Linked DNA regions of Homo sapiens. The protein of the gene in region 2 interacts with the protein of the main gene of each other region in a pairwise test. Each region holds a gene or a part of one and is shown on either strand. Other genes may lie near its edges. The genes, in order: TRIM63, NRAP, KLHL41 and PRKAA2.

Evidence for each region.
Region 1: the proteins of NRAP (region 2) and TRIM63 interact in a two-hybrid assay, tested with the Homo sapiens proteins (one study listed by BioGRID).
Region 3: the proteins of NRAP (region 2) and KLHL41 interact in binary tests that used the Homo sapiens proteins (3 or more experiments, as listed by UniProt).
Region 4: the proteins of NRAP (region 2) and PRKAA2 interact in a two-hybrid assay, tested with the Homo sapiens proteins (one study listed by BioGRID).

What each region holds. Positions count from the first base shown.
Region 1 is NC_000001.11:26,064,486-26,071,568, forward strand, and holds the start of TRIM63 (E3 ubiquitin-protein ligase TRIM63), read right to left. Parts: upstream 3,146-7,083; 5' UTR 3,010-3,145; coding exon 2,851-3,009; intron 1,956-2,850; coding exon 1,783-1,955; intron 1-1,782. UniProt on the Homo sapiens protein: E3 ubiquitin ligase. Mediates the ubiquitination and subsequent proteasomal degradation of CKM, GMEB1 and HIBADH.
Region 2 is NC_000010.11:113,653,890-113,661,090, forward strand, and holds part of NRAP (nebulin-related-anchoring protein), read right to left. Parts: intron 3,686-7,201; coding exon 3,581-3,685; intron 237-3,580; coding exon 132-236; intron 1-131. UniProt on the Homo sapiens protein: May be involved in anchoring the terminal actin filaments in the myofibril to the membrane and in transmitting tension from the myofibrils to the extracellular matrix.
Region 3 is NC_000002.12:169,504,649-169,512,766, reverse strand, and holds the start of KLHL41 (kelch-like protein 41), read right to left. Parts: upstream 3,066-8,118; 5' UTR 2,989-3,065; coding exon 1,879-2,988; intron 1-1,878. UniProt on the Homo sapiens protein: Involved in skeletal muscle development and differentiation. Regulates proliferation and differentiation of myoblasts and plays a role in myofibril assembly by promoting lateral fusion of adjacent thin fibrils into mature, wide myofibrils.
Region 4 is NC_000001.11:56,704,123-56,711,323, forward strand, and holds part of PRKAA2 (5'-AMP-activated protein kinase catalytic subunit alpha-2), read left to right. Parts: coding exon 1-353; intron 354-1,969; coding exon 1,970-2,096; intron 2,097-3,352; coding exon 3,353-3,591; 3' UTR 3,592-7,201. UniProt on the Homo sapiens protein: Catalytic subunit of AMP-activated protein kinase (AMPK), an energy sensor protein kinase that plays a key role in regulating cellular energy metabolism.

The DNA.
Region 1 (7,083 bases), on a different chromosome or scaffold from region 2:
TACCACTTGCTAGCTGTGTGGGCTTGGACAAATCTCTGATCCTCTCTGAGCTTCCATTTCCTCATGGTAAAATGGAGACAGGAATGCCTTCCCGGGTTACTATGAGAAGCAGATAGGAAAAATGCCTGAAAGTACTTAGAACAGCGCCTGCACACAATAGGTACCCAATAAATGGTTGATACATTAACCATTTTCCATTAATATCTTATTTGACAGCCACAATAACAGATCTTACTGTTTCTGTTTGCAGACAGAGGAAATGAAGCTCTAAAGGCTTACCCAGCATGGTACAGTACATTAGTCACAGAGGCTGACTAGCAAGCACAGTTCCCCGGGTCAGGGTTTTTTCACCTGAGATCTGGTCTGTCACCTTCCCCTGGGCTGGGCACTGCCTGCAGGCAGATGCCTTGGTGAAGGCTTTGGACCTTAAAGGCTGTGAGGTCAGCACTCCTGGAGTCTTACCAGGATGTCCTGATTTGTAAAGATCTTTCCTGGAGCTGTGTCTCTCCCAAATTTTTGTGTTGTGTTGTGTTGTGTGTGTGTGTGTGTGTGTGTTTAGATGGAGTCTCACTCTGTCACCCAGGCTGGAGTGCAGTGGCACGATCTCTGCTCACTACAACCTCCGCCTCCCTTGTTCAAGCAATTCTCCTGCCTCAGCCTCCTAAGTAGCTGGGATGACAGGCACGCGCCACCACGCCTGGCTAATTTTTGTATTTTTAGTAGAGACGGGGTTTCACCATGTTGGCCAGTCTGGTCTCCAACTCCTGACCTCGAATGATCCACACACCTTGGCCTCCCAAAGTGCTGGGATTACAGGTGTGGGCCACCGCACCCGGCCTCTCAGTGTTTTTGTCTGTTTGAGGCATGGTCTCACTGTCACCCAGGCTGGAGTGCAGTAGCACAATCATGGCTCTGCAGCCTTGACCTCCCTGGCTCAACAATTCTCCTGAAGAGCTGGGACTACAGGCATGCCCCACCACGCCCAGCTAGTTTTTAAACTTTGTAGAAACAGGGTCTCACTATGTTGCCCTGACTTGTCTTGAACTCCTGGCCTCAAACAATCATCCCACCTTGGCCTCCCAGAGTGTTGGGATTATGGGCATGAGCCACCATGCCTGGCCCTCTCTCCCCAGTTTGAGGCCAACCCTTCACAACCTCCACCACTCACACATTCTGCCTATGAATGAGCTGCTATTTTATTAGCAGGAAGACTCAGAGCTAGATTGACTGGGTCAACTCCCAGCTCTTTCACTTCCCAGCTGGGAAACCTTAGCTAATTGATTTCACTTCTTGAGCCTCAGTTTCCTCATCTGTGAAATGAGGATAATAAAGTCATGCCTGATTCACAGAGTTATTGGGAGGTACTTAGATGAAGCATTCCCAGTGCCTGACGCTGTTCCTCATGGCACACGGGAGAGTAGCTGTTGCTATCCTTATAGACAACCTGGCTGTTTCTCACCGGGCATTTTCTCTGCTGACCAGAGCCACTTAGCTGGCCCCAGGGCCTTTCTCTCCCTCTCACATCTCATCTTTCCCCCAGTCTCTGTCTTGGTATTGCCTGGAAGGGCAGCCTAATGTCTGGGCCCCTTCCCATCCGCTGAGCAATCCTGAGAGCTGGGTTGGGGTGTATGGGTCTCCAGTCCTGTCTCTGAATGGCTTGTGTAGCTAGTCCAGCTAGAGGCCTGGATCCTGAGCAGATGAAGGAGGGGGAAGGAGCGTGGGGGATCTAGGCACAGCATGGCTGGGAAGGAGGGCGGGCCCCCAGCAGGCACGAGAACCGACCTGGAGCACTCCTGTTTGTAGATGTCGATGATGTTCTCCACCAGCAGGTTCCTCTGCAGGCCGTACACTCCGTGACGATCCATGATCACCTCGTGGCGGCAGGTGGGGCAGCGGAAACGGCCTCCAGACATGGACACTGAGCTGCCCCGGCTGGTCCAGTAGGGATTTGCAGCCTGCAGGTGGCAAAGGTCAAGGTGAGGCCTGGGCTCCCTACTTAGCCCTTCTCTTTTCTAATCTCCTCTTATCCTTTCCTCTGCCTATCCGAACCACCCCCGTCAAACCTAACAACCTGGAGCTCTGCAGACTGTGATGAGAACCAGTCCTCACACACAGAGCACCTGAGAAGCAGCTAAGCAATCGTCAGGATGGGGAGGCAGGAGACCTGGGTTCAAGTCATGTTTATTCTCTGAGTGATTTTGGGCAAGCAACCTTATCTGTGTAGGCCTCAGTTTGCCCACTTATGAAATAGGTATTACAATGAGAGCAAGCTCCTAAGGCTGCTACTTTAAAGATAATATCGTGAAAGAACATTTTGTAAAGTGTCCATGGGGAACCTCGCATCCTGCCTCCCAGCCAGGACATCTACCCCCTTCCTTTCTCGGGGAGTTGGAGCCCCTTCTGCCCCCATATCATAGGGAACAGCCTCAAAAGGGAAGATGCCTCTACTGCCCACTGCCTCCCTGACACCCTCCTCCCAAAGCTCTGGGCCTCTTGCCACCAGGACCTGGCTCCAGCCCCAGGGGTCTGGTTTCTCTCTCCTGTCCCTGCCTACCCCGCTTATCACTTGAGGCATTTGACTCTTGATTGGAGAGTCAACAGCAGTGCTCAGGGCAGGGGTGGGGGAGCTGTGGGCAGGGCAGGGAGGGGAAACTTGTGTTATGGAGAAGAACCGCAGCAGCCAGAGCCGCCTCCCAGCCCCCTCTCAGCCCTGTCCAGAGGCCTCTGCAGGGGTTCACTTCCAAGGGGAAAGAGGCTGTCCAGGTTGGAAGTCTAAGGGAGAAGGGTTTCATCACAGGGAAGCCAAGTAGCCACCTGGGGACCCCAAATGAAGCTGCACCCGGCACTTACCTGGAAGATGTCATTGGCACACTTCCGGCACAGGTTGTGCTGGCACGGCAAGATGACCACTGGCTTGGTAAACATCTCCAGGCAGATAGGGCAGATCAGCTGCTTCTCCAAGTTCTCCATGGGATTCCCATCCTGGATCAGGCTCGACTTATAATCCATTCTGTGGGAAGGAATGAGAGCCACGCCTAGCTGCCTCCTCTACTAACTTTGCTCTAAGTAGACCTGGGGGTCTTGCCTTTGTCACAAAACACCGGGTCGGATCCTGTTGGCTTCCTTCTCCTGGTGCCCGAATTCTGTCTTGGTCTGAGGCCCCTCTGATATTTATAGCTAGATCTTGGTCACATGAGCCCCAGGAGGGGACCAGCTGAGCATTCCGATGCCAAGCGGCTGGTGGGGCTTGAGTTTCCTCCAGGCCTGAAAGACTGGCCCTCTCAAATCACATGCAGGGATGAGCAATCACTATTCTGCTGGGACGGGGGTCATAAACAAGAACAGCCTGTTCAGAGGCAGGCTTAGGGCAAGACTGGGTACCCAGAGCTTCCTCCAGAAATTGGTCTCCCCCCGGCACCAGGCTAGTGGGTCAGGGATGGGACCCAGCAAGTGAGCCACGGGGATTCAAGGGGTTAATAGCCAATGCTATGATGAAAATGTTCGATGAATGAATTTTATTCATTCATCAGACATTTTTCTGAGTACTAGTATATACATCAGGCAACTAGTATACATCACAACGTGACAGATGGATGAGTGATCTGTTTCCCTGCCCCGAGAAACTCACAGCCCAGGAAGGGAGATAGAAAGGATTGTGCAGTGGCACGATCTCTGCTCACTGCAACCTCCACCTCCCAGGTTGAAGGGAGTCTCCTCCTTCAGCCTCCCAACCTCAACCCCCTCCCAGCCCCACGCAACCCCTCACTGACCTAAATCAATTCCATCCCCTCCTCTGGAGTCCTGGGCAGCTCCTAGATGGAAGGGTCGGGCAGCCCCTCTCTCTGAGCCCATCCCTCTGCCTCAGACTTCAGCACAGCATTTTGCTGGAGATGATGGAGACCCCCACTCCAACCAGCCCATCCTCCATCCCTCGGCCACTTATTTCACTTAGTGCTGAAAAGCCTCCTTTGAAACACAGTCCAGTCCCCTCATCTTACAGATTTTGAAATGGGACTAGAGAAGAAAAGGATTATATTCAAAGTCAGTTGGAAAGTAAGTGGCAGCCGGGCGTGGTGTCTCACACCTGTAATCCCAGCACTTTGGAAGGCTGAGGCAGGTGGATCACTTGAGGTCAGGAGTTCGAGACTAGCCTGGCCAACATGGTAAAACCCTGTCTCTACTAAAAACACAAAACTTAGCTGGGTGTGGTGGTACGCGCCTGTAATCCCAGCTACTCAGGAGGCTGAAGCAGGAGAATCACTTGAACCCAGGAGGTGGAGGTTGCAGTGAGCTGAGATCGCGCCACTGCACTCCAGCCTGGGTGACAAGAGTGAAACGCCATCTCCAAACAAAACAAAACAAAACAAAAAAGAAAGAAAATAAGTGGCAAAGACAGAAATTTTATTCATTCATCAGACATTTTTCTGAGTACTAGTATACATCAGGTAACTAGTATACATCACAACGTGACAGATGGATGAGTGATCTGTTTCCCTGCCCCAAGAAACTCACAGCCCAGGAAGGGAGATAGAAAGGAAAAACCCAGAGGGCACAGTGACTCACGCCTGTAAACCCAGCACTTTAGGAGGTCGAGGTGGGCAGACCACGAGGTCAGGAGATGGAGACCATCCTGGCCAACATGGTGAAACCCTGTCTCTACTAAAAATACAAAAATTAGCTGGGTATGATGGCAGGTGCCTATAATCCCAGCTACTCAGTAGGCTGAGGCAGGAGAATCGTTTGAACCCAGGAAGAGGAGGTTGCGGTGAGTCGAGATTGCACCACCGCACTCCAGCCCGGTGATAGAGTGAGACTCTGTCTCCAAAAAAAAAAAAAAAAGAAAAAGAAAAAAGAAAGAAAGAAAGGGAAACCCCTCATGCGGTGCCACAAAGCCCTGCCTGGACACTTAGAAGGCGTCCCTCAGCTCGCTGCACACATTTTAACTTTTCTCCATGTATTTTAGGACATCTTCCACGTTGGCAAGTAGAAGTCATTAGAGCAGTTCCAGTGGCTGGTTTTTTTTTTTTTTTTTCCCGAGATGTAGTTTCACTGTGTTGCCCAGAGGCTGGAGTGCAGTGGCGCCATCTCAGCTCACTGCAACCTCCGCCTCCCAGGTTGAAGTGAATCTCCTGCCTCAGCCTCCTGAGTAGCTGGGACTACAGGCATGTGTCATGACACCCGACTAATTTTTGTATTTTTAATAGAGACAGGTTTTCACCATGTTAGCCAGGCTGGTCTCGAACTCCTGACCTCAGGCAATCCACCTGCCTCGACCTCCCAAAGTGCTGGGATTACAGGCGTGAGCCACTGTACCTGGCCTCCAGTAGCTGTTTTTAAGGTAGCATCTAATGAAAGGACTGTGGGGTCATCTGGTCCAAGGCGATGGGGCAGAGATATGGAGCAGTGGTATCAGGGCCCAAGATGAGCCTAAGAGGCTGTGGAATACTCAGGAGGAGTATGAAGGATTTCAGGAAAGAGGAATGATGGGAGCAATGAGACAAGACATAGAGCAGAGAAGCAAACCTTGGAAGAGAGGAAATGGGAGAAGAAGAGGGACAAGTTACAGAAAAAAGAAGAGGCCTTAAAAACAAAGGGCTGGAGGATTTCGAGGAGAGAGTTGTCCCCCCAAAATTTTGCTGAGCACTTAGGTTTTGCTGAGCACTTACTATGTGCTATGCATTGTGCTAAATGCTTTGTATGCATTATTTCATTTTACCATCTCAATAGCCAATAACAAAAGACCCATAATATCCCCATTCCACAAGTGAGGAAACTCAGGCACACAGGTAAAATAACTTGTATGAGGTCCCACCGATAGCACGAGGTGGCTCTAGGACATGAACCCAAATATGCTTGACTTAGGAACCCAAGCTCCTCATGTAGACTCTATTGAACTGTGTTTAGGTCAAGTCAACACTGACTGAAAAAAGGCCACTTCTTCTTCCTTGCTCATGGGACCTCAGTTTAGTTCAGGCATTGGCAGCATTGTGCTCCAGGAAGATGGCCCTCTCCACTGCCTCAGGAGATGAGTCACACACAGTTTAAGCCTATCATACAACCCCATTCTCTTTTGCCTAATGATGCAGTTATGGTCAATGAGACCCAAGGATATGTCTGTTGGCTAAAGATAAAGGATTTCCTCCACAATAAAAATGAATGTGCAAGAAGAAAGCTTTGTCCATACCTTTGAATGGGGCTGTGAGAGGGTAGAGCAGCTATCTTGCAACCACAAGGGGACAAGGCTGAGGATGATGTCAACACCCTGAGGATAGCATAGAGGAACCATAGGAGGCACCTGGGTTAGAGATGCCATCATTTTGTTGCCAATTTATCCAACCCTAGAGCTGCCTGTCTCTTGACTACTTAAGACGTGAGATTACAAATGCCATTATAGTGTAATTACTCTGTTACTTGAAGCAGTAAGCACCTCATAAACCTGCATGATTCCGACTCCCATATGCTGATGATTCTCAACTCTCTAATTCCAGTTCCGACTTCTCCTCTCTCCCCTAAGCTAAAGATTTGTTGGAGATTTCTACTGGGATGTTCTAATAGTATCTCAAATTCATCATACTCCAGCCAGAATACACCATCTTCCCCGATACCTAGCTCCTCCCTCCATTTTTCTTGTCTCGCATCTTAGTGAACAGCACTACTGTCCACCCATTTGCACCAACCAGGAAGCTGAGAGTCATCTTAGGGCTCCCTCTTCTTCTCATCACATGCCTACTTAATCTCTGTGTCAGGCATGGCCCATCTTTGCATCTCACTTGCCGTATTACCATCGTCTGCTTGTGAGTCCGACTCTCTCTCTGGACTTTGAAGACATTGAGGGCAAAGATGGTCTCTATTCATCTCTGTACCCCCAATGCCTGGTACCTAGTAGGCACTCAACAAATGTTTCTTGGCTGGGCGCGGTAGCTCACACCTATAATCCCAGCACTTTGGGAGGTCAAGGTGGAAGGATCACTTGAGCCCAGGAGTTAGTGTGAGACCAGCCTGGGCAACATAGTGAGATACTATCTCTACAAAAAATTAAAAATTAGCTGGTCGTAGTGTTGCCCATCTGTAGTCCCAACTACT
Region 2 (7,201 bases):
ATTAGGACATGGGTATCTTTGGGGATGATAGCATCATTCTGTCTACCGAAATTGTAAAAGTCAAGGAACAGTCAAACTAATTGCTAAGTAATTGCTAAACCAATTCCTAAAGCAATTTCTAGGGTGCTTACCTCACCAAGAGACTTTCGAGCCTCAACCATCCTTACAATTTCGGGGTCTGGCAGAGCTCCTGGGCACCAAGCATTCCCTTCCCCATATCCAGTCCAATAGGCTCTCTACAAAGGAAGCACATGAAGGGATACAAACACATGCCCCAGACTCCCAGCAACACTTACATACATTGTCAAAAGAAGATATTCTTAAACATTATAAACTCCTATTGGTAAATCCTGGGTCTCAGCTAACTGAAATGTTCATTTATTTCAGGCTAGAAAATGACCTAAGATTCTAAATAATTGAACTTTCTGAGAACCACTTATGTTACAGGAAAATTTTGAATGTAACAACATTTTCTTGCACACCATTGCATCAAGATTGGGCGAGGAGGAGGGGAAATCACTGTGGACAGGTAATCTGAGATTAATCAACATTATTCAGACAAATGTCAAAAACCTACTACCTGTTATGTGCTTGACAACTGACAATGGCAATAAAAGCAAAAAAAAAAAAAAAAAAGGAAAGGCAAAGTTTCTCTTTTAAGATACTCATGACCTACCACCTTGGGAGATAAAACTAACATGAAATAAATAGCAATTAGAAAACAGTTATGTGTTTAAGTGTATTGTCTGAGTGATAAGTACAATAAGAATCTTTAAAAAGCAGTCTGTAAGAGATGGGTCCCATATGGGGCAGGAAGATAGAATTTGAGCTGTACCTCCAGGGCTGAGGGCAATTAGTAGAGGCCAAGGGAGAACGAATGGCATCCACTTTAGAAGGTCCGTTCCATGAAGGCAGGGATTTTCATGTCTGGTTTACTAACGCATCCCAAAAGCTTGGAACAGTGTGTAGCAACTCATAGACTCAATAATTATTTGTTGAATAAATTCCAGGAATGTAGGCTGCCATGAATAAAAGCATGAAGGCAGTGATGGGCTCAGTAATTAGGACCATGAGGAGCTGGGTTTGATTGGACACAAGGGAAAGAGATGGGGAGCCAGGTGGGCTGGAGGGGGGCAAGTTGGACAGGTTGGATAGAGCCAGCCTTTGGAGATCCAGAAAGACAGATTATTCATATGTGAAATTATACTCAACCTGACTAGCAATCAGGGACATCTAAATTGAAACAAGATGCAGATTGTCCAAACACTTATCTGACAATACCAAGTGATGGTTAGAATGTTGGGAAACAGGCATTCTCACACACTGCCTTTGGGAGTATAAAATGTACAGCTATTTTAGAATTCAATTTGAGCCTCCATTAAAATTTAAAAGGGACATACCCTTTGATCTAGCAACTTTGTTTTTTCATTATCTAGTCTAGAAAAACACTCACTTGTATACAAAAGAGGTCTTGAACAAGAATGTTCCTTGCAAATTTGCAATAGAAAAAAAATTTTGGAATAATCCTGTCTATCAATAGGATAGTATGGTATTGTACATCCATTTTTTTTTTTTTTTTCCCTTGAGACAGAGTCTTGCTCTGTCACCTAGGATGGAGTGCAGTGGCACTATCTCAGCTCACTGCAACCTCCGCCTCCTGGGTTCAAGCAATTCTCCTGCCTCAGCCTCCCGAGAAGCTGGGATTACAGGCATGTACCACCATGCCTGGCTAATTTTTATATTTTTAGTAGAGATGGGCCATGTTGGCCAGGCTAGTCTCGAACTCCTGACCTCAGGTGATCCACCCACCTTGGCCTCCCAAAGTGCTAGGATTACAGGTGTGAGCCATGGCACCTGGCCTTGTATATCCATACTTAATGGTGCACCTATGATACACCCATTCACGATAGCTTAAAAGGATGCTGATGTAGAAATATTTCCAAGATATTTGTTGAGTGAAAAATACACACTTCACAACAATGCATATTGTTTCATGAAAAAAGTATACATTTTAATAGAAATATACTGTAAACCAAAAATAAAATTCTAAGCCCCCTAACTATCTGAACAGATCCCTCCTCTCAGCCAAGGACATTCGAAAGTTAACCTGCAAAACTGGTTCAGGCCATGATGGAAAGGGGGAGGTCGAACATGTCTCATTATACCCGCCTCCCTTTCGGAATTCAAGAAAAGCCTACCGACCAGCATTAACACCAACACATACTCTAAGTCTGATAAGAAATATTTACAATCTATTCTCTCTGAAACCTGCTGCTTGGAGGCTTCATCTGCATGATAAAACTTTGGTCTCCACAACCCCTTATTGTAATCCAGACATTTCTTCTATTGATTTCAGGTCTTTAGTTAATAACTCTTTAAATCAATTGCCAATCAGAAAACTTTAAATCTACCTATAACCTGAAAGCCCCCACTTCGAGGTGTCCTGCCTTTCCAGATGGAACCAATGTACACCTCACATGTACTGATTGATGTCTCATGTCTCCCTAAAATGTATAAAAGCAAGCTGTACTCTGACCACCTCTGGCACAGGTTGTCAGGACCTCCTGAGGCTGTCGTGGGTGTGTCCTTAACCTTGGCAAAATAAACTTTCTAAATGGATTGAGACCTGTCTCAGATACTTTTGGGTTTATATAACATATATACATATATAATTTTCAATAACAAGTAATACTAGCTGATATTTATTGTGCCTACCACTGTTCTAAGATCTTTTGTTCATCGCAATATCATTATGTTAGGAAGTGTTTTTGAAGTTCACCTTACAGATGAGAAAGTTGAAGTAAAGAATGGTTAAATAACTCATTTAAGATCCTTCAATAAATGGTAGCATGTCCAAATGTAAATTCTAGAAAGATATGGTTTTATTTGCAAATCAATAGAGAAAAGTCTGGAAGGATGCTATCCACAAGATTGACGAGAGTGGGTACTTGTACAAAGAAAACTGGAATTGGAGGTGGTGGATAAAGGGTTAGCTTTGTACTGTTTGGATTTTTTTTTATAATAAGAATAATGCAAATTCTTATGTGTATATTATGTGTGTAAATAAAATAAATGGCTAAGGAATTCTGAAATGATGAGTCTGTCAACAGACAGGGGAGGTGGGAAGAGTAAGTCAGGGACACCTAGGAAGCTGGGAGCCTCCTGACCCATGTGAGTACAACAGGCTGGAGAGAGGCCAGCCTAGAGGAGGGAAAGCAGCCACCTTGGGAGGCCTCGTAAAGGTCCAGGCAGAAAATGATGTAGATCAGAACGGGGAGAGTGGAGAGAAAAGGGTGGAGCTGAGTGAAGTGTCAGAGAAAGACAGGGTAGCCTTGGTTTCAAACCTGGGTGATAGAAATACAGTGGTTGGAAGGGGAAGACAATGAACCTGGTCTGGGGAAGATAGAGTTCAGGTGATATTAGGACACGCTGATTGAGGTCTTCCATAGACAGCTGGAATTACAAACTGGGTGAAAGGAAACCTACTTGGTTTTCTCTAGAAGTAATAATAATAATACACTCAATTGACATAGTATGTCATTCTTTCTTTTTCCAAACCCACTTGTCACTTTTCTCTCACCTCATTTGCCAGTGGCTGCCTGTTAGGTGCACCTTCCTTATCCTTGGATTTCATGTCCCAGTGAAAAACTGATTTACACTGTTCACCATCTTCTTGGTCATGGATCTGCTCAAGGAAGATGTTGTCAGTAATGTTTCCATCAGAAAAGAGAAAAAAACATAGACAAACAATTCCTAGCTAAAATTGGGGGATTTTGCTAAGTCTCAACTGCAAAGCATCTTCACTGTGCTGCAAGGCACACTGTGCTGTCAGTCTCCCTGTGGTTTAATCTGCACCTCCAACCAGGTGGCACATATAGAGCACCTGCTGTGTGTGAAGCTCTTTGAAGCAGTGCAATTAAAGTGACTGAGATAAAGTCTTTATAAACCTACCACACAATACAAATTAGAGTAACCTCAGAAAACATTGGGCATTAGAGTACTGGTTCTTAATTTTAGTCATGTAACCATCACCCAGGGAGCTTATTAAAATGCTGGCTCCTCAATTTTATGAAGATATTCTTCTTATGCCTCACAATTTTACCTTTAACATCCTGATTTATAATACACCTTGAGTTAATTTTTACATATAGATAAGGGTCAAGGTTCATTTTTTTCTATATAAATACCTAATTACTACAGTACTGTTTATGAAAAGATCATTCTTGCTATGTTAAATTGCAGTGATGCCTTTCTTGTAAGTCAAGTGACCATATACGTGCAGCCCTATTTCTGGACCTTGTGTTGGAGTCCACTGGTCTATTTCTCTCTTCTTGTGCCAATTCTATGCTGAGTTAATAGAGTAAGTCTGCTTTTATAGAGTAAGTCTTGAAATCTGGTGAGTCCTTCAAATTTGTTCTTCAAGATTTCTTGGCTATTTTAGAAGCTTTGTGTTTTTATATTCGTTCAGAATCAGTCTGTCCATTTCCACAAAAAAACACCAGGATTTTGAATGGCACTGCCTTGAATGTATAGATTAATTGGGGGAAAACTGACCTCTCAGTAACATCTTCATAACCTTGAGATAGACAAAGATTTCTTAAATGTAAAAAGGACTAATTATAAAAGAAAAAACATCAGAAGGTCTTAGGTCCAAACTAAGATATCAAAATTTATTAGGTAGGAAGTGAGGCCCAGAAATCGGCAATTTTGGCCGGGCGCAGTACCTCACGCCTGCACTCCCAGCAATTTGGGAGGCCAAGGCAGGTGGATCACTTGAGGTCAGGAGTTTGAGACCAGCCTGGCCAACACAGTGAAATCCCATCTCTACTAAAAATAGAAAAAATTAGCTGAGCATGGTGGTGCACGCCTGTAGTCCCAACTACTCAGGAGGCTGAGATATGAGAATCACTTGAACCCAGGAGGCGGAGGTTGCAGTGAGCCGACATCACACCACTGCACTCCAGCCTGGGCAACAGAGTGAGACCCTGTCTCAAAAAAAAAAAAAAAAAAGAAAGAAAGAAAGAAATCTGAAATTTTTACAAGCTGAAGTTTAAATTCTTAATTTTAAACATAATAAGAAAACAAGCTCAGAGAAAAGTTTAAACCCAAAGGATTCTTGTTCCCTATCAAGGGCACATTCTGATATTGACTTTCCAGGGTTGCTACTGCTTAATGCTACTTGATGCATATATTTTTAAATATATACACTGAGAGATCTTTACATGCTTTTTCCTTGTATTTTTAGGAAACAATTAAATGAACATTACGTAAACTTAAAGTGGGCTTTGTTTGTTTGTTCGTTTTTTGTTTTTACCTACAAATAATACTACCAATATTTTGGGCCAGTTAATTATTTGTTGTGGAGTACTGGCTCGGGCATAGCAAGATGTTTAAGAGCATCCCAGGTCTCCACCCACCAGATGCAATAATACCCCATCAACACCAGTCACGACAATCAATATGTCCCAGACATTAACAAATGTCCCCCAGGTAGGGGTTGGGGGGAACTGCCCTCCTTGAGAACAATGTACTTTAGGAATCAGAAACACAGGACCAAAAGACCAAAATAGATATTCTGTCCACTTCTAGAAAGTTATATTTGCTGTCCTCCTTCCCCAGTGCAAATCTACCACTGGGGAGGGTTTGCCTCCCCTAGGGACCTTTCGTGAGATTCAGGATTACACCAAGGAAACAGAAAGAGGAAAAAATGCCATAAATCTTACCAGTGGGGTAAGGAAGCATGAAGGGCTAAATTTCGTTCTCTGAATAGAAGAAAACCCTAGATGTTTTATTTTTCTAAAAATTCCATTCACACCTACCAAACAGGAAATTCTGTCTTTGCAAGTATTTATTTATTTTTCAAAGGGTGACATTTAGGAGACAAAAAACCTGCAAATCTGCTTTGAATGCCAGCTTAAAATCTCTACTTTTCTCCTTCATCACCATCACTGAAAAATCTCTTTCCTTTTTTGATTTTAGCACTTTCACAATGAATTTGTTTTTTATTCAATTGTCAAAGTCTCCCAGAGATCACAGGGAGGTGAAAAGGTAATTCATAACACACCCTAGGGCAGTTGTAAGAGCTGGGCCCTGTAAGGGATATGGTTGTCCGTTTTACTTTGTCCCTGGTGGGCAAAAAGGAGAAAGTGATCTCAGTAGACAACACACACACACACACACACACACACACACACACACCATATACACATATATACATACATACATACATAAACACCATACATACATATATACACTCACTATATACACATATATACATACCACATATGCATATACATATCCCACATGCATGTACATATACATACATATGCATAAACACATACACACCAAATACATGCACACAATACACATGAACATGTGCACACACATACTCATGCACACACATCACATACACACATATAGATGTGTGTGCACACACATTCACACCTACATACACACATATACACACTCTCCGGATGCACACACACATATATATACACATATATATACACACATATACGCTGTCACATAGACGCAAACAAATACACACACGCAGGCTTCCTGGGAAGCTCACATCACTGTCTGTGGCTGGAAATAGAACCAGCAACAATCCTAGCCTTGCTCCAGGTTGGGCCTGTCATACACAGTTAAAATAAAGTGAGTCCACTCCCACCTCAAAAAGAGGAAAATAGTGTGTGACCTGTTGTGTGATTATAAGGTGGAGACATGCCTGCTGTGGCTCAGTTAGAGGAAAAATACAGACATTATGGATCTTTCTGTAGACACTGTAATAAATGCAAACAGCATTCTGAGGTAAAGTACATCTCCTCATGTTTTATGTGTCAAATCCTCGCTACACAACTGCAGAAACATATGGATATTTGAAAACATGAACAAGTGCTTTTTGTCTTCTGGAGAGTTTGCCACCCTCTGGATATATATGAAAGAGAGCCACTAATAAATATCCTAAAGTTAAACAGATCTGGATTTGTGCCCAACCAGCTGGGTAAACTAGGCAGGTTACTTAACCTCTCTGAGCTTCAGTTTCCTCAACTATAACACAATAATATTACAGAAGGTTCTTGTCAAGAACACATGAGATAATATAAAGAACTTAGCAGAGTGTTCAGTACTCTGTTTAAGTAAGAGCTAGATTCAATATTTATTGTAATTTCATGTAGCTGCTCTCAGACACCAAGAGATG
Region 3 (8,118 bases), on a different chromosome or scaffold from region 2:
AAATATTGTCTGATGAGTCACAACCCTCTTTTATGGTGAAGTGTTTTTATCCTGGCATACCGTTCTATTAGTGCCTTTTAAAAGCAGCAAGGCATTTGCTTTGCTGACCTTCCAACTTTGTATAACTGTTATTGTTAATGTTCTGTTATACAGAACATTAAGTAGGTTTCTTGAACCAAAAATGAGAAGCTGCGTCAGTAAAAGTAAGGGTTTTATTAGGCTGGAAGAGGACAAAGATTAAACTGAACACTTGAAAGTAAAAAGGACCGTGTTATAGATATATTCAATAAATTAAATATGAAATGAAATTTAAAACTCCAGTAATTTTGGAGAATCATTCCATGGCAACAACTATTCCGTGGATCTGTCATTTGTAGGTATCTACCTATATGTCTGTCATCTGTCTATCTGTGTTTTTATAACATTCTTACTTCCTGGATGTATTTATAGCCTTTTTCATTGACTTTGCCACTTTTGACGTTTATTTGACTTTAAAATTAGGGCTTGGGAAATTTTCTGACCCACATTCAAATACTTATAACATTCTTCACTGGAACTTTGAAAATTAAGAAACATGATTAATATGTATTATCACAACTACATTTTTCAAGATTAGAAAAAGTTGATTAAAGGTATAATAGTATTTTGTGAATGCAAAGTATATCACACACTTTGAGAGCATACTGTGACTGTGGTATGACATTGTATACTTGCTTATCTTTGGCCTTTCCAACTAAAGTGCCCATAAGCCCCAGCCATGATTAGCTATGACCTAAACAAACTCTTTTGAGCCAGTTGTAAGCTATAAAGTTTCGGTATTGGCATTATGGAAGACAAAGGTTAAGCCAACTCCTTCATAAACTGATAAAGTATAACACATTGATAATATAAGACAAATTCCTTTCAAACAACTAAGGGTATATTGGTTTAGGAGAATTAATTTTCTTGGAAAATTCTGTGGTTTCACAAAACAGATTGTTAAGTTCTAATAATGTCTAAATGTATCTCTGATCCAAATAAATGTGATATAATAAAAATTTCTAACTATAATTAATTCAAATTAGCGACTTTTGTGTAGACAGTTTTTCCTAGAAGATAATCCAAAGTGTGTGGAATATATATACAAGTTTTTTTCATTTTCAACAAAATTATATTTTAGGCAGTAACCATAAATAAGAGATGAAGTGCTACCTCCAAGAACTTCAAATGAAGTTCAGGGAAACTTGGAAGAAGGTAGAAAATCTGACCAATTTAGAGCTGCCAGCAGATGAAGAAGAAAAAGAAATTAAAAAAGAAAATCTGACCAATTATTACTTCTTTATAATGGATAAGAACTTTGATTTAGGGAAACTATTTGGGGAAAGACATTAACTATTTTTAATAGGTAAGAGTATACAAGATTAAATTTAGTTTTTACAGCAGGGGGTGGTGGCTCACACCGGTAATCCCAGCACTTTGGGAAGCCAAACTGGGAGTATTGCTTGAGCCCAGGAGTTCGAGACCAGCCGGGGCAACATAGTGAGAGCCCATCTCTGCTAAGAAAAAATAAATTTAGTTTTTACTAAAATACTGGGCTTTGAGGGATTACAGTCACGATCATCTATAAACAAGGCATTTTTGGTAAAATAGTATAAAGAACATCTTAAGTCATTAAACATGAATTAGAACCTCATTATTCACCAAACTTTTTATTACACATTAACAAAGCAGTCAAATATTTTTCTGTCAACGCTCTATACAGCAAAAGTGCAAGGGACTGGAATAGGACATCAATTAGAGTAAAATGCAAGCAGCTTGAATAATTCACAAATTGGCTAACTGGATGGTGAGTAACAGCCTTCCCTTTAAGCAACTACATATACAAAAAGTCCTTCTTACCTGGAAGAAGTATGACTGTAGAGGTTGATCCTTATTTTCTTCATCCACATATAGTCCTCCTACCACATATATCTGATTTTGCTGGGTAACAATGCTGGAATGATTTCTGGGAATCTGCTCAGCCAGTGCAGTAAGGTAGCATTCATTTTCCGTGGGGTCATAAGCCACTGCTGCTGTGTCATTAACCAAGAGGATGAGGTCTTTTACAAACATTCCATGCCTGGGAATGTCATTCAGGTAACCAGGAAGTAAATCTTCATCACCAACATCACCATTCACCTCACCAGCCCCAGTCTTCGCGGCATTTTTGCTAGGTTCTGGGAGTTTGCCTGCGAAAGCATCTTTTAGAACTTTGATTTTTTTCTGGAGGTCTGGGTTGCTTTTAATTATATCATCTTTCTCAACATGATCCTTAAAATATTTTTCTGTCATAAGGCGAAAACGGATACAATCAAACACTTCACTAAGGTTTTTAACCCTGTTTTCCTTGTCTGTTCGCACCCATTTCATCACTGCCTCAAATACTGCTTCTTCTTTTTCTACATTTAGGCTGTCATTTGAAATGACTGAGATCAGTTCCTGTGGAGACAGTTGCATAAAGTCCTCTTCCTTACAAATCTGTACAAAGCGATCAGACACAAATTCACGGGCAGAAATGGCGAGTCTCGGGCAGTCAAGAAGAAGTCCTAATCTTAGGATGGCTAGACAGTTACCAGGAGCAAGTCTTTTCTGAAGATAAGAAACGCAGACAGTAAACACTGAGGGGATCTGAAAGCGGCTGGCCAATGCAAAAATATCTTGCACATTTCCGTCATTGAGATCAATACTGGCAGAGTACAGGTATTTGATGATTAAATCAAGTATAGCAGGATCCACATTGTCTAGCACTACCTCCTTTTTTTTCGCCTCATCAATTTCAGATAAAAAGTACTCACGGAAGTAAGGACTACAAGCTGACAAAATCAATCTGTGGCAAGGAAGACTTTTGTCACCTGCTTTTAGGGTGCAATCGATGAATTTTTTCTCATCCAGGAGATCTTTTAGACCATCCTGAAGAAGGGTGGATTGGTAAAGCCGCAGTTCCTCTGCAAGTTCCCGCTGGGAATCCATTCTGTGAGAAACCTGGGTAAGGAAGGGGACACTGAAGGCCTTAGCTCCTTGCAGCACACAGGTCTAGCTGTAAAAAGGCAGATCAGTGTGCTTTGCCCAGCTTGAAGCCTTTGCAATTTAATCCCACTAGCTAAATATAGATACCAACTCTAACAACGGGAATTTAGGAGAGCTGGCTTGGAAAGAAGAGTTGTTCTTGCAGCTGTTATAGATTGAAAGTAACAACTGGAACTTTTAATCACTAGGGAAACAGCTAAGAAACAAGACATTTAAGTGAAGTTGAAAGCTTAAAAATACATAACACATTAGAAGATATACTAATAAAGGCTACTACAAGAAAATGTTTATTGAATTAACAGAAAAATGAATCATAAAAATGAGTCACTCCTCTAAATATGTTCTAGTGTCAAGCTACTTGGCTCTCTGAATTAATGATGCAAAGGTCAAGAATATGAGATGTGTTCATTTGAATACTCATAAGCAAGATCTCATTTCCAATAATTGTTAACATACAAATTTTTACTTTCTACTCAGAACAGTGGGATATAGATATTTCTTTTAGAAGTAGTAAACTTAAAGATGTTTACTTCTGTACTAGTTTTACAAAACCTTTAATGTTGCCATGATAATTGAAAAAAGAAATGCAGAGGAATTGCTAATTTTCTAAAACATTCCAAATTATTCTTACATGGAAAAACTGTAATTAATATTGAATTAAATTATAAAATTATTTATTCATATCCTGCCTTGTCATACAAATGATCTAATGTGGCAAACGATAATAAGGTAAAATAAAAGCAAAAGGTTAAAAGGAATCACAGAGCCAGAAAAAATAATTAAAAGTCAATCTAGGGAACGAAAAAGTCCACACACATTCAAATAAGATCACAAAAGATAATCTGTAATTTTAAATATCAAAAATTATCATTCATTAAATAAAACGTGAAAAATAGAACAGATATAACCCCATGAGAACAATGTTATCACTAAACACAGCAAAATCAAGATGAACTCCTACAATGGTCATAGAGAACAGCCCCCCCTTTTTTTAAAGAGTATATAACTGGGGACATAACGTAGGCTGTTGATTATAATAGAATACCATATTAATTATGGAGGTAGAAGTAATGATTTGAAAGAAAATCGGTCCTTTGTTTATATATAGATGGTATAATATACTTCATTAAATACTTTCATTTATTTATTTATTTTTGAGACAGAGTCTCGCTCTGTCACCCAGGCTGGAGTACAATGGCGCAGTCTCGGCTCACTGCAACTTCTGCCTCCCGGGTTCAAGCAATTCTCTTGCCTCAGCCTCCCGAGTAGCTGGGATTACAGGCACCCGCCACCATGCCTGGCTAATTTTTGTATTTTTAGTAGAGACAGGGTTTCATCATGTTGGCCAGGCTGGTCTCGAACTGCTGACCTCGCGATCCGCCTGCCTCGGCCTCCCAAATTGCTGGGATTACACGTGTGAGCCACCGCACTGGGCCCATTAAATACTTTATTACACAGTCATATTGTCACATTATCTGAACTCAAGTAGGGCTGTAGAAATACTGTAATTTCAAAAGTTGGTATTTTTACACATACCCCCAAAAACAAATTCCATGAAGACAGGGATTGTGGGAGTGTCTGTTCTTTTCAAATGCTATAGCGTAGGGGTTTCGTGAGTGCTTTATAAGTATTTGTTGAATGAATGAATGCCCCAGATCAAGGAATTATGTATTTTTAAACTTCAAGGTCTCTATCCATGAGTAAAGGCCTTTTCTTTTATTTTACATCACAGTGAAGTCAATGGTACTGTCAGCTGCTAAAACAACAGCTGAAAGAAGAGCTCATTGACTCTTTTTCCATTTATAGATGCCACTAAAGGTTTTAACACACCAGAAAAAACTAACAGCTGCTTCCTTGTTTAAACAATAAATGACTCATTTCTCTCTACATGTAACATCTAACATTTGAAAAGATTAATGAGTCAGATGCAAACATCATATGACATTTGAGATTATTCCTTACTAGTCAGCAATTTTATAGTCTCTTTTGCTTGAAAAAAACAATATTTAAACAATAGTTATGGCAGCATTTTATCTGTGACCAGTACAAATTTTTCATACATTCTTTCCCCTCGTCTTAAAGGTGGTTTATTATAATTCCAACCCTTAAAATGTAGAAATCCTTTTCCATTTAAATGAAGAAGCCAATTTGTAGCTTTTGTTGATTTTTAATAAACTTAGGTTAGCACTTGGTTGTACTGTATGTCTATGGTTGTACACAGACTTGCATCTTATTTTAAATGTTTTTACATACTTTTCCCTCTGGAAGAAGAGGGCTCCTTTGGCTAATTTCAATTATTTGAAAAAGATTCCTTACAATGTGTTTTACACGGAAACAGTGGTCAAAAACACCGAATGATCCTAGAGAGGTCAACAAGTCTTACCTAACCAAGAAATGAGAAAAATAATATCCTATTTTTGAAAATTCAAAGAAGTTTCAATAAATACAAAGAGAAAGTTAATAAACAAAGCTATTTTCTTACAAAGTAAATGTATTCTTGCCAAAACTACATTGAAATTCTTACAAAATAGCATCCAAAGCACTTTAAAGGGGGGGGTTGATGTATTCCAGAGTTAGTTGTAATTTTTAGTTTTTACAAAAATGACAGGTTTAAGGATTACAATTTGTATTAGAGTTGGTTTACATTTGGAGCTATGTGATTATTTATTTATTTATTTATTGAGATGGAGTCTTGCTCTGTTGCCCAAGCTGGAGTGCAGTGGTGCGATCCTTGGCTCACTGCAGCCTCCACCTCCCAGGTCCAAGTGATTCTCGTGCCCCTCCCAGGTAGCTGGGACTACAGGTGCCCACCACACGCCCAGCTAATTTTTATATTTTTAGTAGAGACGGGTCTCACCATGTTGGCCAGGCTAGTCTCAAACTTCTGACCTCAAGTGATCTGCCTGCCTCGGCCTCCCAAAGTGTTGAGATTATAGGCACGAGCCACCATGCCTGGCCAGGAGCCATGGGATATTTAAACCAGATTTTTACAATTAAGAAAGCAGAATTTTGATTATTCCGTAAGAATAGTCTTTTTCTTTTAAATAATACTTTCAAAACGTTAAATGGTGCTGCATAAATTCTTTATTAAACCGAACATGATACAGTCACTTAATGTCTGAAAACTAAGACTTTACAGGTATTAAGTACAAAATAAACATTTATAAACTAGGTACATTTTGATTACAATTTTAAATATAATTTTTAGAAAACTGAAGTTTTTTTTTTTTTATTATACTTTAAGTTTTAGGGTAAGAATTTTTCTTAGTACAGAACAAAATGAAAAGTCTCCCATGTCTACTTCTTTCTACACAGACACGGCAACCATCCGATTTCTCAATCTTTTCCCCACCTTCCCCCCACCTCCACTCCACAAAGCCGCCACTGTCATCATCGCCCGCTCTCAATGAGCTGTTGGGTACACCTCCCAGACGGGGTGGTGGCCGGGCAGAGGGGCTCCTCACTTCCCAGTAGGGGCGGCCGGGCAGAGGCGCCCCTAACCTCCCGGACGGGGCGGCTGGCCGGGCGGGGGGCTGACCCCCCCACCTCCCTCCCGGACCGGGCGGCTGGCCGGGCGGGGGGCTGACCCCCCCACCTCCCTCCTGGACGGGGCGGCTGGCCGGGCAGAGGGGCTCCTCACTTCCCAGTAGGGGCAGCCGGGCAGAGGCGCCCCTCGCCTCCCGGACGGGGCGGCTAGCCGGGCGGGGGGCTGATCCCCCACCTCCCTCCCGGACGGGGCGGCTGGCCGGGCGGGGGGCTGACCCCCCCACCTCCCTCCCGGACGGGGTGGCTGGCGGGGCAGAGGGGCTCCTCACTTCCCAGTAGGGGCAGCTGGGCAGAGGCGCCCCTCACCTCCCGGACGGGGCGGCTGGCCGGACGGGGGACTGACCCCCCCACCTCCCTCCCGGACTGGGTGGCTGCCGGGCGGAGACGCTCCTCACTTCCCAGACAGGGTGGCTGCTGGGCAGAGGGGCTCCTCACTTCTCAGACGGGGCGGCTGCTGGGCAGAGGGGCTCCTTACTTATCAGACGGGGCGGTTGCCAGGCGGAGGGTCTCCTCACTTCTCAGACGGGGCGGCTGGGCAGAGTTGCTCCTCACCTCCCAAATGGGGTCGCGGCCGGGCAGAGGTGCTCCCCACATCTCAGACGATGGGCGGCCAGGCAGAGAAGCTCCTCACTTCCTAGATGGGATGGCGGGTGGGAAGAGGCGCTCCTCACTTCCTAGATGGGATGGCGGCCGGGCAGAGACGCTCCTCACTTTCCAGACTGGGCAGCCAGGCAGAGGGGCTGCTCACGTCCCAGACAATGGGCAGCCAGGCAGAGACGCTCCTCACTTCCCAGACGGGGTGGCGGCCGGGCAGAGGCTGCACTCTTGGCACTTCGGGAGGCCAAGGCAGGCAGCTGGGAGGTGGAGGTTGTAGCGAGCGGAGATCACGCCACTGCACTCCAGCCTGGGCACCATTGAGCACTAAGTGAACCAGACTCCGTCTGCAATCCCGGCACCTCGGGAGGCCGAGGCTGGCGGATCACTCGCGGTTAGGAGCTGGAGACCAGCCCGGCCAACACAGCGAAACCCCGTCTCCACCAAAAAAATACGAAAACCAGTCAGGTGTGGCGGCGCGCGCCTGTAATCGCAGGCACTCGGCAGGCTGAGGCAGGAGAATCAGGCAGGGAGGTTGCAGTGAGCCAGAGATGGCAGCAGTACAGTCCAGCTTCGGCCATTTTGGGAAGAAGTTCTTTATCAGCTCCCTTGAAAAAGCACACGTAGATCACCAGTCCTCTTTGGACCTCCACCCACTGGGCCGCAACGTCCCCATTGGCTGGGCGAATTTGCAGCCGGGCGTGCAGGCACTGCTGTAGGAGCGCCCGGGCCTGAGGAATCCAGCTACCCTCAGCCATGGCTTAAGCCAGCGCCGCGGCCGGACGGTTACTAGGCCATGTGTCGCTGGCCCCTCCCTCGACGCGCTGGCCGAAAACTGAAGTTTTCTAAATGACTTTTTCCTCAATCATTAAAAAAACTCTTACAAGTTTTAAATATAAAAGCTGTAAATATAAAAACTATTCCATGACTTAT
Region 4 (7,201 bases), on a different chromosome or scaffold from region 2:
GTGACCCTCAAGACCAGCTTGCAGTGGCTTATCATCTTATCATTGACAATCGGAGAATAATGAACCAAGCCAGTGAGTTCTACCTCGCCTCTAGTCCTCCATCTGGTTCTTTTATGGATGATAGTGCCATGCATATTCCCCCAGGCCTGAAACCTCATCCAGAAAGGATGCCACCTCTTATAGCAGACAGCCCCAAAGCAAGATGTCCATTGGATGCACTGAATACGACTAAGCCCAAATCTTTAGCTGTGAAAAAAGCCAAGTGGCATCTTGGAATCCGAAGTCAGAGCAAACCGTATGACATTATGGCTGAAGTTTACCGAGCTATGAAGCAGCTGGATTTTGAATGGAAGGTAGGAAATTATAATGTAATAAGATCATTTGTAGAAGCCATTTTTCTATATTATAAGCTGCTCTGAGCTCCTGAGTTGAGTATTAAGCCCAACTTTTTCTAGTAATATGCTATGCACATTAAAAACAAAACAAATAACCTCTATAAGGATGAAAAGTGGTTGATACTGGGAACCAACATATTTTGAATTATAGAAGTGTTCTTGGTCAAGAAAAAAGTAATCAACTAGAAATCATCTGAGAAAATAGCTTACCAGTTTCAGCATGCATCATAGCAATGAAAAATCATGAGTGTCTTCAAAGATAGTATGTTTTTACTTTCTCTTTTTTTTTTTAGGGAGGTTATTTTTCTTTTCTCTTTTTTTTAGGTGACAGAGGCAGGTGGCTGTAATAGCTAGTGGTTGATACAAATTATATCATCAGGACATATTTATTCAGTCAATAAACACTTTTCTCCAAGTTGTGATATTCTCTTTTATTTGGCTAGTGCTTTTAATACTTAGAGTACATTTTCCTTACTCTCAGCCCACAGTTTGCTTTTCTTAAAAATTAGTGCTCAATTTCATTTGAGTTCTATTTGAATATATGTGTGGGGAGGGGCATTTTTTCTTTTCAGATATGCCTTTCACTCTTGTTCTTTTCTTGAGGATTGTGAACTTTTAAAGGAAGAAGAAAAATGTGCAAACTTACCACATAAATATGCATTTGACGTGTTCAAATAAATCAGTCATTTTCATTTTATTATTTGTACATGAAATGAATATTTTCTTAAAATCATTTAAAAAACAGATCTCTCTGTTTTGGAGCAGTCTTATTTAGTTAAAAAAGAGACGTTAACATTTTTAAAATTCTGTACTGAAACATTTTGAAATTAGTACCACAGATGTTTTGAAAACCCAAAGCAGTGTTGTTTTTTTGTTTATTTTTTGTTGTTGTTGTTTGTTTTTTTGAGACAGGGTCTCACTCTGTTGCCCAGGCTGGAGTGCAGTGGCGCGATCTTGGCTCACTGCAACCCAGGGTCAGGCTATCCTCTCACCTCAGCCTCCCTAGTAGCTGGGACTACAGGCGCCTGCCACCACACTCGGCTGATTTTTTTTGTATGTTTTTGTAGAGATGGGGTTTCACCATGTTGCCCAGGCTGGTCTCAAGCTCCAGGGCTCAGGCGGTCCACCCACCTTGGCCTCCCAAAGTGTTGGAATTACAGGCGTGAGCCACTGTGCCTGGTCCTCTTTGTTCCTTCTACTCCATAATCATCCATGAACATGTTCAGGCAGAGACTGGACAACCAAATTAGAATTGATGTTTTAGAGTTGATGCTTATCTAGAGTGAAAGCTGGACCCTATGTAATCTCTGGGTTCTCTTTAAGTTTTTCCTTTATCTTTCACTTTTTTCTTCAGTACCCCAAATTTATTCAAGTAGCTTTTCCTTTAAATCTTAATTGCCATACAGTACTGCTTAGTGGGGATTAAATAAATACTAAAGTGAACTACCAGTAATATAAAAAAATTATTCGTATTCCTTTCCTACCTCACCCCTATTAATTATTTGTTTTGACTTTTTTTGCATAAAAAGGTAGATATTTTGTAGTTTATTATTTTTATTGATTTTTCACTTTAGGTAGTGAATGCATACCATCTTCGTGTAAGAAGAAAAAATCCAGTGACTGGCAATTACGTGAAAATGAGCTTACAACTTTACCTGGTTGATAACAGGAGCTATCTTTTGGACTTTAAAAGCATTGATGGTAAGGAAGCTATGCATGCATGAGCTCTGAGAAGATAAAACTTGGCACTAGTTGACCAGATGTTAAAATCATCTCGAAGACATCCGGTGGGTAGGTCCTGCACTGGTTTTTAAGCAATCTAGACTTAACCAAAATGTAAGTGAAGTGAAAAGGATGAAAGACATGTTGAATACCTCTTACCTGGCATCTTTCCACAAGAAGTATCTCCGTGGCGTAAAAGAATCATTTGAAGTGTTGGCCGTGGAGCACAAGTAAGGAACAACAGGGAAGCAGGTTTTACTTTTCAAAATTAACTGACTTGTCAGATTCTTTGTCATATTTCTCCATTCATATTTTATTAGTTAGTATTATAGTGTCTAAACTTTCTCCTTCATCACCTTTCCTCATCCTGGGTGGCCAGGGCGACCAAATAGGTCTCCATTGGGATTTGGGTTGGATTTAGGTACCCATGGCAATCAAGGAGCCAAAGGCGTCAGGGAAAATTGTCATGTCCAAGAACTTAGTGTGTGCCAAGAATTAAACTTGGGTAAACCAAATCTGATTATTCATTTCAGAGGCCCAAGTGGGATAAAACCAGAATAAACTAAGGGTCAGGTGCTGGATGGAACAAGAATGGAACGGAGTTTAGAGTTAGGGAAGTTGTTTTAAACGAAGCATTTAAATTTTACTCTTGAACTACCATCAACTATGTATGGTAGTGTTTATATGGATCCCAGACCTGTTTCATCGAAATTACATGTTGTTGTTATTAAAACGCAGATCCCTGGGAACCACTCCAGACCTATTAAATCAGAATTTCTGGAGATTGGTCCTGGGAATCGTAGAAAATGCAGTTTTAACAAGATTTCTCTCACTTTGCCCTCCACCTCCCCAAGGCAATATATGATGGTGACTTTTGTTTTTACCTTAGTGATTTTTTTTGTTGATATGCTAGAAGAAAATAAGTTGTCAAGGATATGCTTTCTTCACATGCAGAGATATCAGTTTGATTCCAATATCAATGCCGATTACTCCAATTTGAGCAGGACTTAGGGGCCACATTTTGACTGTGTGCAAGTCTTGTGATTGGTAGCGATGTTTGTTATGATTGTTGGAAGGAAGAAGACTGTGTTTCTACAACACAGAAACATGACATTCATTATTAAGTTGCCCTTGCTCAGATGTGTTTACTTAATATTCTGAATATCATAAATTCATAGGAAGGGCTTGGGCATATATACTTTCCATATAAATTGCTCTTCTTTGGTCCATTTCAGATGAAGTAGTGGAGCAGAGATCTGGTTCCTCAACACCTCAGCGTTCCTGTTCTGCTGCTGGCTTACACAGACCAAGATCAAGTTTTGATTCCACAACTGCAGAGAGCCATTCACTTTCTGGCTCTCTCACTGGCTCTTTGACCGGAAGCACATTGTCTTCAGTTTCACCTCGCCTGGGCAGTCACACCATGGATTTTTTTGAAATGTGTGCCAGTCTGATTACTACTTTAGCCCGTTGATCTGTCTCTAGTTTCTTTCTGTTATTGCACTATGAAAATCAGTTATATTCTTTAAATTTTTATCTTACTTTTGGATAATATCCACTGCAATACTAATTGAGAAACATGAATTATTTCCAGGGGCACACAATGCTATTGAAATTACTGAAAACAAAATATCTGACATCTTATTTACTTGTAGAAATCTGTAATTCTATTGTGCCTATGATAAATTCACATAGGCAATATCTTTAATAGGTTAATATCAATGAAGATTTTTAATTACAATAATGAGTTCACTACAGACGATTAACACACCACACTGGCGAACCATCTCAATGTAAGGGTGGTTTGGCAACACCTCCTTGCTTTGCTGTTTGGTGTAGGTAAATCTAGTTTACTTCCTAAATTTCAGTAGGCTTTATGCTGTGTTTATGCCCCCAATTTATTTTAACAAAAGAAGATTAAAAAGTAAAAGAACCACGAGTAAGATATTATTTAAATGTTGAAATCTTAAAAACCTGCCTCCAAGATTTCAGAAGCCAAGTTTTTCTAACAGTATTTGTACAAATACTGCCTAGTGTATTCAACAGAAGGACTGTGGTCATGTAACAGGTAACCACAATTTTCAGGTTTCTTAAAAACAGCTGTAACTAACTCAGGATTTTTATCTTGAGATTTCCCTGAATAATATATTTATCTTAAGAGCCTTCAAGTTTCAAATTAATATTGGAACATCTGGAATTGCAACAACTTTTGTCTTTTACATAAACTTACGTCATTTAAAAAATGTCTTCAAAATCTACCTTTCTCAAATTCTTTTTGCCTCTATTTATTTTTGCATTTCACCAACAGTGATAAAATAGTTAAATGAAACAAAGCAAAGTATCAACAGTCCCTTAAATGAGAATCCTTATCTTTGATCTTTATTTTCTGTGTTAGGTGTTAGGGTCCTGGTGCAGCTCATAATGCTAATTCTTCATTGGAAGCCACTCCCTTCACCTCACCTCACCTAGTCACTATTGTCTTTGTTCATTGTTTGATCCTGAGTGGTTGATTGATATAGCTTTGAATCTTTTCTAGTCCAAGTTTGAAAACACTGTTCTGGCCCTAAGGGCTGGCTATGACCTTTACTGTTGAACCTGATAGGGCAGGGAAGCTTTGAACATCAAGAAAAAATTTTTATCTTAAATAAATAAATATATATATTCACACACCAGTGCTTTTAAGCAAAAACCAGTTTTTTTGTTTGTTTGTTTTGCTTTGTGCAGGTTTTCTTTAAGATTAAAAAAACACAAACTATAGCAGGGTAGATAATAGTTTATTGATTATATTTTGTTTTAGTAAAAGTATTTAATTTTAAATTCTGTGTAATTTATCTAATTTGTATTTATTCATTTGTTATTTTTATGTTGTAATTAACACTTATTTACCTGGATTACCCTAAAAAAATTAAGCTCTTGAAAACAAAAAAATGACATTACCTTGACAGGCTTCTCTTTGCCAAAAGTAATGTATGTTCTGCCAAGAAGCAAATGAGAATGTTAGACTAAGTTTCTCCTGTGTTAGTGGAAAACAAGTGTGTCTATCTTTAAATATTCTTTGAATCAGGAGTTTGCGTTGTGTCACATCATATGGCTTTGCAGATCTTTTAAAAACTGATGTTAAATAACTTATAAGTCCAACTTCTTAATATCAAGATAAATGAATAGTTCACCAATTTGGGAAGGAGGGCGGGTTGCAATTTGAGATAGTTTAAGGTTTAATTATTGAAAGACTGCCATCTTGTGGCACCAAAAGGTAATTTTTACATGATTATTTGTATAGTGATAAGCAGTCCTGCTGTGTTAGCCTGGTCCATTATAGATATGGCATAGTTTTGGGTTCTCTAAATGGGTCCATACCTCTTTTGGGAAAAAACAGGGCCACCTCATAATATTTGCCTGATTATGAATGGAATTACCTTAGAAATAAGGAACTAATCAGATTACTTAACCCCAATGACAAAATCCACAAAAATTTTGAAGGCAGAGAAACAGAAGGAATCCAGTGATGTTTTAGCTCCATTAGTCTAATAGGTCAGATATTAAAAAATTGTTCATATCAAAATTACCTTATATGGATTATTGCCATGTTTTTTGAGAGTTAATTATTTACTGTTTTCTAATTCTTGCCAGTATTTATGAACAGCTGTAGCTTGATATTTACCTACTGAATTTTAGGAGAACTAATGGTCACAGTTTGGGTTCTTTTATGTGTATGTTTTTAAAACAGCTATTTTGTGAATCTAGGTGGTTGGTTTTTAGAAGATTTCAGGAGATGCAGTCCAGCACAATTAGAGCTGGAACATTGTTACAGCAGGCTTTTTGTTGCTCATGGGCAGATAGAGGGAAAGAATCAGTTGTTAGCCCCAAATTTCCACATTTCAGTGTTGTAAACTCTGAATGTGATAGGTAGATGTGGGCTAAGAATAATTTCCTCCAGTGAAGACACGGGAGAAGAGCTTCTATTATGAGGTTATAGATAAGGCCTTAGTTATATCATGGAAATGGACTCCATGTAGTTCTAGAACTGCATTTCCCAAAGTATATCCTGTGAGATGCTCCACAGAAAAAATGATTGCATGGACTAAGTTTGAAAAATGTTGCATGCTACTCTTCCCCTCGAAGATGACAGTGGATGTCAGCATTAAAGACTTTGACAGGTCTTTCTGTGAAAAAAAGAAAGCCACATAACTTTGTTGAACTTTGCCCAAATTAATTTTTCATTTTAAAAAACTTAATAGCCCATGAAAAGCAAATTTGGGAAATACATTTTTTAGGAAAATACTGTCCCAGAATGCCATAATTAGGGTAGTTAATAATTAACACTTCCATTTCTCTTACTGGTTGTTGGGAGAATCTGATTGAAAATTAGAATTACTTTGTTTTAACTTGCAGACATGTTCATCGTGAGTGAATGCTGGATTAAATAGAATTTTCTGTGTCTGCAACTTGTTTCATGACACCTTGGTTTTCTTAATCATCTTGTATTATTATTTGAGTGCAACATTATTCTTATGCATGGGTGACTGAAAAACCTGAAACAAGATTACTTGTTAAAAAAAAGTCTAAGAGACTAATGACTCATGCTTATGGCTCAGTGGGTAATGAATCAGTGTCACTGATTCTTACTTTTAAAATGTGTAGTCAGTGAACATTTTCTAAATACTTTTCTTTGGGATACCATATGAAGATCTAATTCCTTATGTTTCAGTGTAGGAACAGCTACCTTCTCAAATAGAATATGCAGGGAGGGAAGTAGGCAAACCATTTACAAGTTGGGTTTTTGTTTTGATTAACCTGTTAAGAGACACTTTTGTAATCTCTAGTGTTTACATTCCTTTATACTAGCTATCTATAAAGAGAATCCAGAAGGCTAAATTAATCAGAAATAATTATATTTCTATGTCAGGGTATTGGCTATATGTAGCATGAACAATTCTCCATTTTCTGCAAATGGGTTTTTCAGGACAGTTTTATAATTCTGAGTTTGCTTTTTCTTATTCCCTAGACAGTTTGTACTCAGGGAATACAAATTGATTTTTACTGTTAAATGAGACATAGTTTAGAAAAAATCATAAGCAACTATT